2 separate regions of the Homo sapiens genome follow, and region 2 is linked to region 1. Evidence: fine-mapped expression QTL. A gene starts in region 1. The other region holds a variant in brackets. All regions are shown on one strand. Distances are between the middles of the regions.

The links. PIP is the estimated chance that this variant, and not a neighbour inherited with it, causes the effect.
Region 2: its variant is the best candidate, but not a certain one, in a credible set for the expression of ZNF790 in whole blood (INTERVAL, PIP 0.78).

What each region holds. Positions count from the first base shown.
Region 1 is chr19:36,836,204-36,841,588 of GRCh38, reverse strand. ZNF790 (zinc finger protein 790) reads left to right here and starts at 3,202. Exons shown (of 5, transcript NM_206894.4): 1 at 3,202-3,252.
Region 2 is chr19:36,802,455-36,807,839 of GRCh38, reverse strand. The region is part of intron 3 of ZNF790-AS1 (ZNF790 antisense RNA 1); the gene reads right to left. Among named protein-coding and RNA genes, the nearest start is that of ZNF790-AS1, 7.6 kb to the right of the region's middle. The variant G/A (reference allele first, on the strand shown) is at 2,911.

The sequences.
Region 1 (5,385 bases):
GAGTGCAGTGGTGTCATCTCAGCTCACTGCAACCTCCATTCCCCAGGTTGAAGAGGTTCTCATGTCTCAGCCTCCTGAGTAGCTGGGATTACAGGCACGAGCCACCATACCCAGCTAATTTTTGTATTTTTAGTAGAGATGGGGTTTCACCACATTGGCCAGGCTGGTCTCAAACTCCTGACCTCATGCGATCCACCTGCCTTGGCCTCCCACAGTGCTGGGATTACAGGCATGACCCACCGTGCCCAGCCTGTTCCTTCCATTAATCTATCTTTCTGTCCTTCACCAAAAACACACTGTCTTGATTACTTAGGGCATCTCAACCTTGGACCATTATTTGGGACTGGATAATTCTTTGTTGTGGCAAGCTATCCTGTGCTTGTAGTGTATTTAGCAGCTTCCCTGACCTCTGTCCTCTAAATGCAAATTGTACCTCTCCAGTTGTGACTACCAAGAACTTCATACTGTGCTGTATATCTCCTGGAGAACAAAATCACCTCTGGTTGAAAAACATTATGGTAAAGCTTTGAAAATATTAATAATATTTTAAATTCCTTTTTAGATAGTTCCAACATCTACATCATATCTTTTTCTTTTCTTTTAATTTTTGAGGTAGGGTCTTGCTTTGTTGCCCAGGCTAGAGTGCAGTGGTGCAATCACAGTTCACTGCAGCCTCAAGCTCCTGGGGAGATCCTACCTGAGTCTACCTCTATTTGTTTGTTGTTGCTTTTTGCTTTTATGTCTTGAGTGTCATGATTTTTCTTGCCTTTTCATGTGTCTTGTAATTTGATGTTGCTGAAAACCATACATCTTTAGGACAGTAGTGAGCAGAAATTAGTTAACATAGCAGGTCTGAGACTACTTATCCTTAGAAAGGCCTGATATGCGAGGTTAGTCTTTGGCTTGCATCTAGAACTTGAATTTCAGATTGGTTCCCACCTTCCTAATAAGTGGCTTACTATGCCTAAACTTTTTGTACAAACAGTATGGTTTATGTTAAACACCCGCTTTCCTTCTGGGAATTTGAAATTCTGGTATGTGTTAGGCACAGACTGCCTATGTGACCAGCCCCCAATAAAAACATAGGGCACTGAATCTATAATAAACTGCCCTGATTGGTAACATCTCACATGTATTGTCACAACTCACTGCTGGGGAACAAATAAATCCCATATAAATTTACTGGGAAAGAACCCTTCGCAGTGTGCACCTGGTTTCCCCTGGACTTTGCCCCATGCGCTTTTTTCTTTACTGATTTTCTTTTGTATCACTTCACTGTGAGCCTCCCAGTGAATCATCAGAGCTTGGGCGTGTAGTGGTTGGTCTTGGGGTCCCCTGCCAGTAGTACCAGGAAAATGATGTTGATGGCTGGATGGGCATACCTTTCCTTCTGTAAGGCCTTTACTATGGGGTTTTCGGTTAATCCAGTTAGGAGTTTAACAACTAATCAAGACAGAAAATTTGTACAATTTGATTGCATTTATATACATTTCACAGCAAGATTAAAACTTTTTTTTCTTTTTTTGAGATGGAGTTTCGCTCTTGTCGCCCAGACTGGAGTGCAGTGGTGTGATCTTGGTTCACTGCAACCTCTGCCTCCTGGGTTCAAGCGATTCTCCTGCCTCAGCCTCCAGAGTAGCTGGGATTACAGGCATGCACCACCACACCTAGCTAATTTTTGTATTATTAGTAGAGACAGGGTTTTACCATGTTAGCCAAGCTGGTCTCGAACTCCTGACCTCAGGTGATCCACCCTCCTCAGCCTCCCAAAGTGCTGGGATTACAGGCGTGAGCCACCGCGTCCAGCTGAGAGATTAAAACTATTAAAGAGCCAAGATATTATTAATACCCTAAAGATCAGCTGGAGCTGGAGCTGGGTATCAGAAATGATCACACAGGTTATGTGCAGTGACTCATGCCTGTAATGCCAGTACTTTGTGAGGCCTACTTGGGAGGATCACTTGAGCCCAGGAGTTCGAGACCAGCCTGGCCAACATGGCGAGACCCTGTCTCTATAAAAATTAGCTGAGTGTGATGGCACACACCTGTAGTCCCAGCTATTCTGGAGGCTGAGGTGGGAGGATCACTTGAGCCAGGGAGGCAGAGGTTGCAGAGAGCCTAGATCGTGCCACTGTACTCCAGCCTGGGTGACAAAGCCAGACCCTGTCTCAAAAAAAACAACAAACAAACAAACAAAAAGAGAAATGATCACATAGAATGGGCATTTGTTCTTGAGATACCAACACTTGTGTGGAGTTATACTGAACTTACACATTTTATGCACTTCAAGTATTTTCTGTTTCACAATAAAAAAAGAAACAACTATTTTAGTTACCTGATAAGTTTGAAAGTACTGAAAAAAATTACTCCTCTGTCAGAAAGTTTAGATGTAGATTGAAATGATGTACATCTAAAAGAGAAGCAAATGAAAACTGGCAAGTGTGTACTTCAGCAAAAAGAATGGCATGAATGGAATTTACAAAACAGTACTAATGTTACTATAAACATTAATTGAAACCAAACACTTTAAGGGCGATTGGAGGATGGGAATAAGGTATTAGGAAGAGTTCTCATGGATTCCCAGACAGGGTACCCCTATAGGGCTGGGCATGTAGCTGTGTCCCATGGATCGTTTCCCCTTCGTTCTATCCCAGGCTGGTACTTGTGGGACAAGAGGTGTCCACCCAGCCGGGCCGAGGCTCGGGCAGAGACGGGACAGACTCGCCACTCGCTTGGCACAGTCTTGTAGGACTTTCCCGCCATGCCACATAGGTCAGAGGCCCACGCAGCGAGCTCCTACTGAAAACCATCGCACCATCCCCCCGGGGCATTTCTGCAGTGTTCCAGGCTCTGGACTACATTTCCCAGGGCCGTCGGGACCAAGGTTACTTCCAGCCTAAGATGGCCTGGGCTTACTGTCCTGTTCCCAGGGCTGGGAGCCTTTTGCAGAGGTAGGGCAGCCTGCATGCCTCCGCTGAAGCTTCCTAAACGCGGCCTGGAATTCTGGAAGCTCTCGGCAGCAGATGTGAGCGGTGTGTGGGCGATGGTCTTTGCCCAGCGAGGGGATGGGGCTCAAATGCAGGGTCCGTTAATGGTGACCGCGGTGTCCGGGGCAGTTAAAGACGGCCCAGGCTCCGGACTACATTTCCCAGAGTGCACCGTTCCCCGGGCAACTTCCTGTCAGCCCTCTGTCCCTTTAGGGTTAATAGAAAGATCGCGGAACCTTCCACCATCAAGGGACCGCAGGGCCGGGTGAGTGATTCCGAGACACAGAAGCCGAATGACTCCGGAGGGCCCGAGGCCGGGGCTGAGGGGAGTGAGGTGCTAATGTCTTTGGAGTTGGTGGCTTTGCCGGCGAGGGAGCGTGGGGGCGAGCGATCGCGATGGGAGCAGTGGATGCGAGAGTGAAATTGATGCAGGAGCTGGGGCCGCGACGGGAGCTTGTGTGTGTGTGTGTGTATGTGTGTGTGTGTGTGTGTGTGCGCGCACGCGCACACGACGTTGACAGGCGCTGTGTGTGACCCTAATGGACTATTTAAATGTGACTGTATGTACGTGATTATGACTGCGTCGCGTTGTGCGTGACCACGTTCGTAAAGGTGGTGATAGCAGCCGCTATGGGGCCAAAAACAAAGAATTGAGCTTTGCGTTGAGTGACAGGCATAGTCCTTCGTGAATGTGTGGGGAGCAGTTTTTGTGCTGGCCCGTAGCTGGATTGGAGTGGGGGCAACCTAGAAGGAGGGGAGAAGAATGGGACACAGTGTAGACAACATAGTTCAAGAGTTTCTCCGTAAATTAGAGCAGAGAAATGGAGCAGCAGGTTGGGGTAGAGGGCTGGGGAAGACGGCTGGGGAACAACCACCCATCAACATGTTGTTGGAAATGAGCCACGAGAGGGGGGAAAAGTCCAGGCAAGGGTAAGTAAACAAGGCTCATCTGTGTGGGTGTAGTTAAAAATGCAAGAATTAAAAAAAATAGAAAAGGGTAATCGCGCTGCAGAGAGTAAACCATGAGCTGAAGATTTCAGATATAGGGGGAAAATACCCTGTGTTTGGTAGAGGTCAACAAAAGTGAGATGTGGTGAGTTATATACAATCTCATGGCAGGAAATTCAAAACTAGAGTTTGTGGAGGGAGGAAGAAAGGTCTGAAGGTAGTGAACAACAAGGAGGCCGGCCATCTGTTCCATTTTCAGACCCACTGGTAAGAGGCTGTAGCTGGGGAAATGTTGAGAGGGCTGCAGAGTCCTCCAGATACAGCCTAGTTTCTGTTAGACTCAGAATGTTAGGGCGTGTTCAAGGAAGTGGTTGAAGATAAAAGAGGAGTTGGTTGTTAATGAATTATGAATTCCATTATGAAGGCATACAGGAAAAGTGTTGAAAGTTGGGAAGAATGAGAAAAGGGGACAAATGAGACTTGATGGTATACAATGTCCGAAAAGACAGTTGACTAGAAATTCTGGGACTTCTTATAGTAGATAAATATAAATACAAGGTTGGATTGACATTTATTCTGGTTGGATTCAAGTCAGTTTTGGAGAGATAGCGTGGGATAGTGAAAGATGATTTCTTGAGTGTGAGAAACAAACTTACCCGTCCCAAAGAATGGACTCAGAGACCCGGAGAACAGCAAAAGTGAGACTTTTAATGATGGTCTTGCAAGATCAGTGTCTGATAGGCACACCCAACAGTTTCAACAAGCAATTTATCCCCTAGTGCACAGGTTCCTCCCCTGGTTCCTCATAGGCTGATAACTATGGGGTCACAATCTTCCCGGATGTTGCCTATTGATTGTTGGGTAGGGGCTTCAGGTGTTTTGTTTTTTGATTTTTGTGAGACAGAGTCTTGTTCTGTCACCAGGCTGGAGTGCAGTGGTGCAATCACGGCTCACTGCAACCTCCGCCTCCCAGGTTCAAGTGGATTCTCCTGCCTCAGCCTCCCGAGTAGCTGGGACTACAGGTGCGTGCCACCACGCCCAGCTAACTTTTCTATTTTTAGTAGAGATGGGGTTTCACCGTGTCGGCCAGGATGGTCTCGATCTCTTGACTTTGTGATCCGCCCGCCTCGGCCTTCCAAACTGCTGGGATTACAGGCGTGAGCCACCGCGCCCAGCCGGTGTGTGTGTGTGTTTTTTTTTTAGGCTTGTCTTGCTGCATTTGGTTGCGGCCCACAATGCACTGCAATCCTAGTTAGCTCAAGGTCTCTTCAATAGTTGACTTATGACCTAAGCAGCTGGGCAGGCTGATAAAAGCAGACAAAATGAGCTATTTTGCAGGCTAGCAAACTTTCATCTTAGACTAAACTTCTTTGGTTTGGGTGAAGGCAACTAAGTGGGGGAAAGGGAGAAAGCGGGAGGCTGACAAGCAGGCATCATCTATCCAAGCAGG
Region 2 (5,385 bases), 34 kb after region 1:
TTGTCGGTTTGCTCCTCCTCTTCAGAAATTACAATGTCTTCCCTACAGTTACGCATAGACATCTTTTATAGACAAGTGCTGGAAAATTTTAATCTCCAGAGATAAGGCCATGGAAAAGATTTTAGATACCCTATCTATTAGTCAGCAAACATTTATTAAACTGTCCATGGGCCAACTGCTGTTTTAGGCCTGTGGGACAGAAAGATCAATAAATACAAGACCTTTGGCTGGAGAAACTCACAGTTCTTGGACTGGAATGAACAACCAACAAATCATTGCAATTCTATGTGATGTGCATTATAGTAGCATGATAATGATCTTTTCTTTTTCGTGTTTTCCCCCAAATGACAACGGCTCAACAAAATGTAAATGCAGGTTACAGAGATCCAACATCTAAAACAATCCTTCTATACTGCCTCTCCAGGCTCCTCTGCCAAGATGCACATACTCTAAGAAAGACAATGCCTTTATCAAATCCACTCTTACTTGAAGTCAGCCTGAGGTCATAGGATGCAACTTTCCTTAGAAAATTTTGCCCTATCCTTCATAAACCTTCAAATCTAGTCTGTGAAAGACTTCAAAGACAAAACAAAACAAACAACAAAACATTTTCCTGTTATTCACATTTTTTAATAACACCTGTTGACTTCATCACTTTATTCTTTTTCCAATATCAGTGTAGAAATAAGAAATTGGCTTTGAAAATAGTATATTATTAACATCATCAAACATCAAAGGCATCAGGCAAGAAAAAGATAACTTTGAAACTACAGAGTTTGTCTAAATAAGACAATTGAAAACACAAACTATTTTTTTTTTTTCTTGAGACACAGTCTTGCTCTGTTGCCCAGGCTGGAGTGCAGTGGCACCATCTCGGCTCACCGCAAGCTCCGCCTCCAGGGTTCACGCCATTCTCCTGCCTCAGCCTCCGAGTAGCTGGGACTATAGGCACCTGCCACCATGCCCGGCTAATTTTTTGTATTTTTTTTAGTAGAGACGAGGTTTCACCGTGTTAGCCAGGATGGTCTCGATAGCCAGGATGGTCTCGATCTCCTGACCTCGTGATCCGCCTGCCTCGGCCTCCCAAAGTGCTGGGATTACAGGCGTGAGCCACCACACCCGGCCTGAAAAGGCAAACTTTTAAAATATCCTAGTTTAATAGAAAATTGTTCAAAATATGGTGAAGCAAACAGAAAAAACTTAGCAAACAGTATCATGAAAAGAAAGTAAATACAGTGAGCTGAGCTTTGGGTGTGTTTGTCATGAAAATGGAAAATAAGACAGAGCTAATATGCAGTGATTTGAATAAAATATGCTATTACTAACATATTTTAGTAATAAGCAAACTGAAATATATTCATCCATTCCTCTACTTGATGACCAAAAGGAATAATGCTTTAGATTTGGCAACTTTGGTTAAAAGGATGAAAAACTTTTGAGCTATTTAAAAAGCAAGTAACTGGGCCAGGCATGGTGGCTCATACCTGTAATCCCGGCACTTTGGGAAGCCAGGGTAACAGAATCACTCGTGCTCAAGTATTTGAGACCAGCTTGGGCAACATAGTGAGACCCAACCCCACCTCTGCAAAAAAATTTTTAAATTAGCTAGGCATGGCGGTGCACACCTGCAGTTCCAGTTACTTGGGAGGCTGAGGTGGGAGGATCTCTTGAGCCTAGGAGTTTGAGGCTGCAATAACCTATGATTCCACCCCTACACTTCAGCCTGGGTTACAGAATGAGACCCTGTCTCAAAAAAAAAAAAAAAAAAAATTAAATTAGACCAACTGTAGGATTAATTTAATTTGGAGTAATTTAGGGAAAAAAATGTTTCCTAAAGATATGACAACCAAAGAATGACAGAAACTTCCTTAAATATCTAAAAAGCTGCTAATGTCTTTCTTTAGATAGCTGTCACTGACAAAGGACCAAAAATGGTGGCTTTTAATTTTATTAAAAATGTAAGACTTTGGGGTAAAGATGATAGAATGAAGTTAAAAAAAAGTTCTACCACTCTCAACCTAAAGACAACAGAAATAGCACAAGTTCACCTGGAGTAACCAAACACAGAAACAGGTCAGGCAGTAAACTTCAGAGGGAGATGATGGTCAACAACAGAGAAAGAAAATTTTGGCAAGGCCCACCCAAGTGCCAGACCCTCTCCCACCAAAGAAAAGAGGTCTGGAGCCACTGGTCAGTATACTACAGGCAGTATATCTAGGGCCACAAAGCCGTAAGAATCTCCTTCTTATGAATTTCTGAAATCATATTTGATGACTCAAGCAAAAATTATAAAAGCATATGTTGGAATGCTCAATATGAAAAAGGAAACATTGGAAACAATTATATCTAAAAGGTAGAGAGGGTAAAGACCTAAATGAAAGTAAGTTTTCAATGCTCCACTGCAAGTACTTAAATGTGGATAGCAATAGGCTAAGTTATAGATATATACTGTAATACCTAGAGCAACCACCAAAAGAACTATGTAAGTGATATACTCAAATACAGTATAAATTAAACAAGATGGAATTTTAAAAGTGATCAAGTATCCAGTGGAAGACTAGAACAGGGAAACAGGAAACAAACAGAAAACAAATAATAAAATGGCAGAATTAAGCTTTAACACATCAAGAATTACTTTAAAGGTACGTGGTCTAAGAACATCAATTTACCTTTGATGTAAAGGACAGAGATGGCAGTTTAAATAAAATAAAACATAACCCAACTACATGCCACGTACAAGAACCTCACTTCAAACACAGCATAGGTAAGTTGACAGTTAAAATAAAAAACGAACAAAAGAAAAAAGGTATATCATGCTAACATCAGTATTAAGAAAGCAAGAGTGGTTGTATGGATAACGGGTAAAAAAGATTTCCAAGGAAAGTTAATAAGGGCATTACATAACGTAAT[G/A]AGAAACATTACAAAATAATTTAAAAATCATTATGTAAAGAGACGCATTACATGATTTACAAATCATAACGACATATAGATACTAAATGTGTATGCATCCAACAACAGAGCTTCAAAATGCCAACAAATGCAAATTAATGCTTTTTATACAAATACGCACTATCGTAGCCTCATTAATGCAGCATTGTTTTAGTCTATCCATCCTTCATCAACTGTTCTTTTTTTTTTTTTTTTTTTTTTTGAGAAGGAGTCTCACTCTGTTGTCCAGGATGGAGTGCAATGGCATAATCTCGGCTCACTGCAACCTCCACCTCCTGGGTTCAAGTGATTCTCCTGCCTCAGCCTCCTGAGTAGCTGGGATTACAGGAGCCCACCACCATTCCTGGCCAATTTTTTTTTTTTTTTTTTGGGTATTATAAGTAGAGATGGGGTTTCACCATGTTGGCTAGGCTGGTCTCAAACTCCTGACCTCAGGTAATCCACACGCCTTGGCCTCCCAAAGTGCTGAGATTACAGGCGTGAGCCATTGTGCCTGGACCATCTATCTATTTTCCCATCCTTCTATCTGTCTGTCCATGTGCCTAGAGGAGAAAGAATGGCATGGTATTTTCCTGTATTGATGACAGTTATTTCTAAATCATGGAGGTGGGAATGCTTGTTGATTATCTTCTTTGTTCTTTGTTATACTGGTTGATTTTTTTTAAAAACAAGCATTTTTATAACAATAAAGTCATAAAAATAAGTAACTAAAATAAAGTAAAATAATCTATGAAGGCCGGGTGCAGTGCTTCACGCTGGGCGTGGTGGCAGGCACCAGTAATCCCACCTACTCGGGAGGTTGAGGCAGGAGAATCGCCTGAACCCGGGAGAAGGAGGTTGCAGTGAGCCAAGATCGCGCCATTGCACTCCAGCCTGGGCTACAAGAGCAAAACTCCATCTCAAAACAACAACAACAACAAAAAGTCTAAATATAATTCAGTTGAATAAACTTTTTATTGACTAATTTCAAATTAGATTCTAGTTAAATGTTAGAACAGCAGCTCATAGAAGCAGATGTAGTCAATTATGTTAACTCTGTGGTTTCATTTAAGCAATTTGTTTTGTGAAGGGACACAAATCCAACCAGATTTTAACAGTGTATAAATACTTACTTACTAATTCAATTACAATGACAATACTCTCAACACCCCATCTGAATAAAGCAGAGCATCCGATCTCTGTTCTGGGGCACTGTACATTATAGGTGTGTGGAAATACCGATGCCCTCAGCTGTGGGGCAGGCTCAGTGGGACCTGGAGTGCTGGAGACCCTGGGCCATTCACCTCTGGTCACAAAAGCTATTGTCCATTTACCCCCAACTGCCATAGAAATATTATTTTCAGTGGTTGTTATGATGCAAAAGAAAAGAAGCAGGGAGATTTATTAAATTTTTACGTATAAGTTATGTAAATAAAGTGAACTTTCTCCTGGCTTAACTAAAAAACTATACTAGTATTTATGCCTTTTGGAAAATAGAGATGCCAATTTAAATATTATGAAGCAAAGCAACTGATTATTAGGTAAGACAACCAATTACAACTGCAGAATTGTAGAGGTTATGAGTTACATGTATAATATTTCACAGCAATACTCTTTTAAGACTATGTCAAGACACTCACAGTGAAGCAGAAATTAGAACAGAATACTACTGTGTATGCTCTCAGTTCACCTATTTATCGGAACGGTAACCAATCTCATTAATAATTTTATTTTGATAAGATGTTGAAGTGATATTTTGGATAATGCTAACATTTTAGGTGAAATAAAACATTAATTTCACCTGTTTCTTTTTAACTTTTCTAAAGTGACTACTAGAAAATCTAAAACAACTTATGTGTCTGGCATTGTATTTCTATTCGAAAGCGCTGCTCTACAGAGAAATGGTCTCTAGGGAGGCAGAAACATGAGAACCACAATAGAGGTGGATGTAGGGAAGTGACAGACACATCTGGTGGGTACCTTCAGGTGCTGACAGTGGGAACCCAGGAGATTCGGGTATGGACAGGCCTCGATCTATGCACAGCAGGAGACTAGCATGGCTGACACTAAGGGTGCTGAGCTGACATACAAAACTATTCAGCTTTATAAACGTGTGATAAAAATACCGCTAAGTCACTGACATTCCACAGGACAAATCATAATAGAAATGAAAAAACAGCCAGGCGCAGTGGCTTACGCCTTTAATCCCAGCACTTTGAGAGGCCGAGGCGGGTGGATCACGAGGTCAGCAGATCGAGACCATCCTAGCTAACATGGTGAAACCCCGTCTCTACTAAAAATACAAAAAAAAAATTAGCCAGGCGTGGTGGCAGGAGGCTGTAGTTCCAGCTACTCCGGGGGTTGAGGTGGGAGAATGGTGTGAACCCGGAAGGTGGAGCTTGCAGTGAGCTGAGATCACTACACACCAGCCTGGGCAACAGAGCAAGGCTCCGTCTA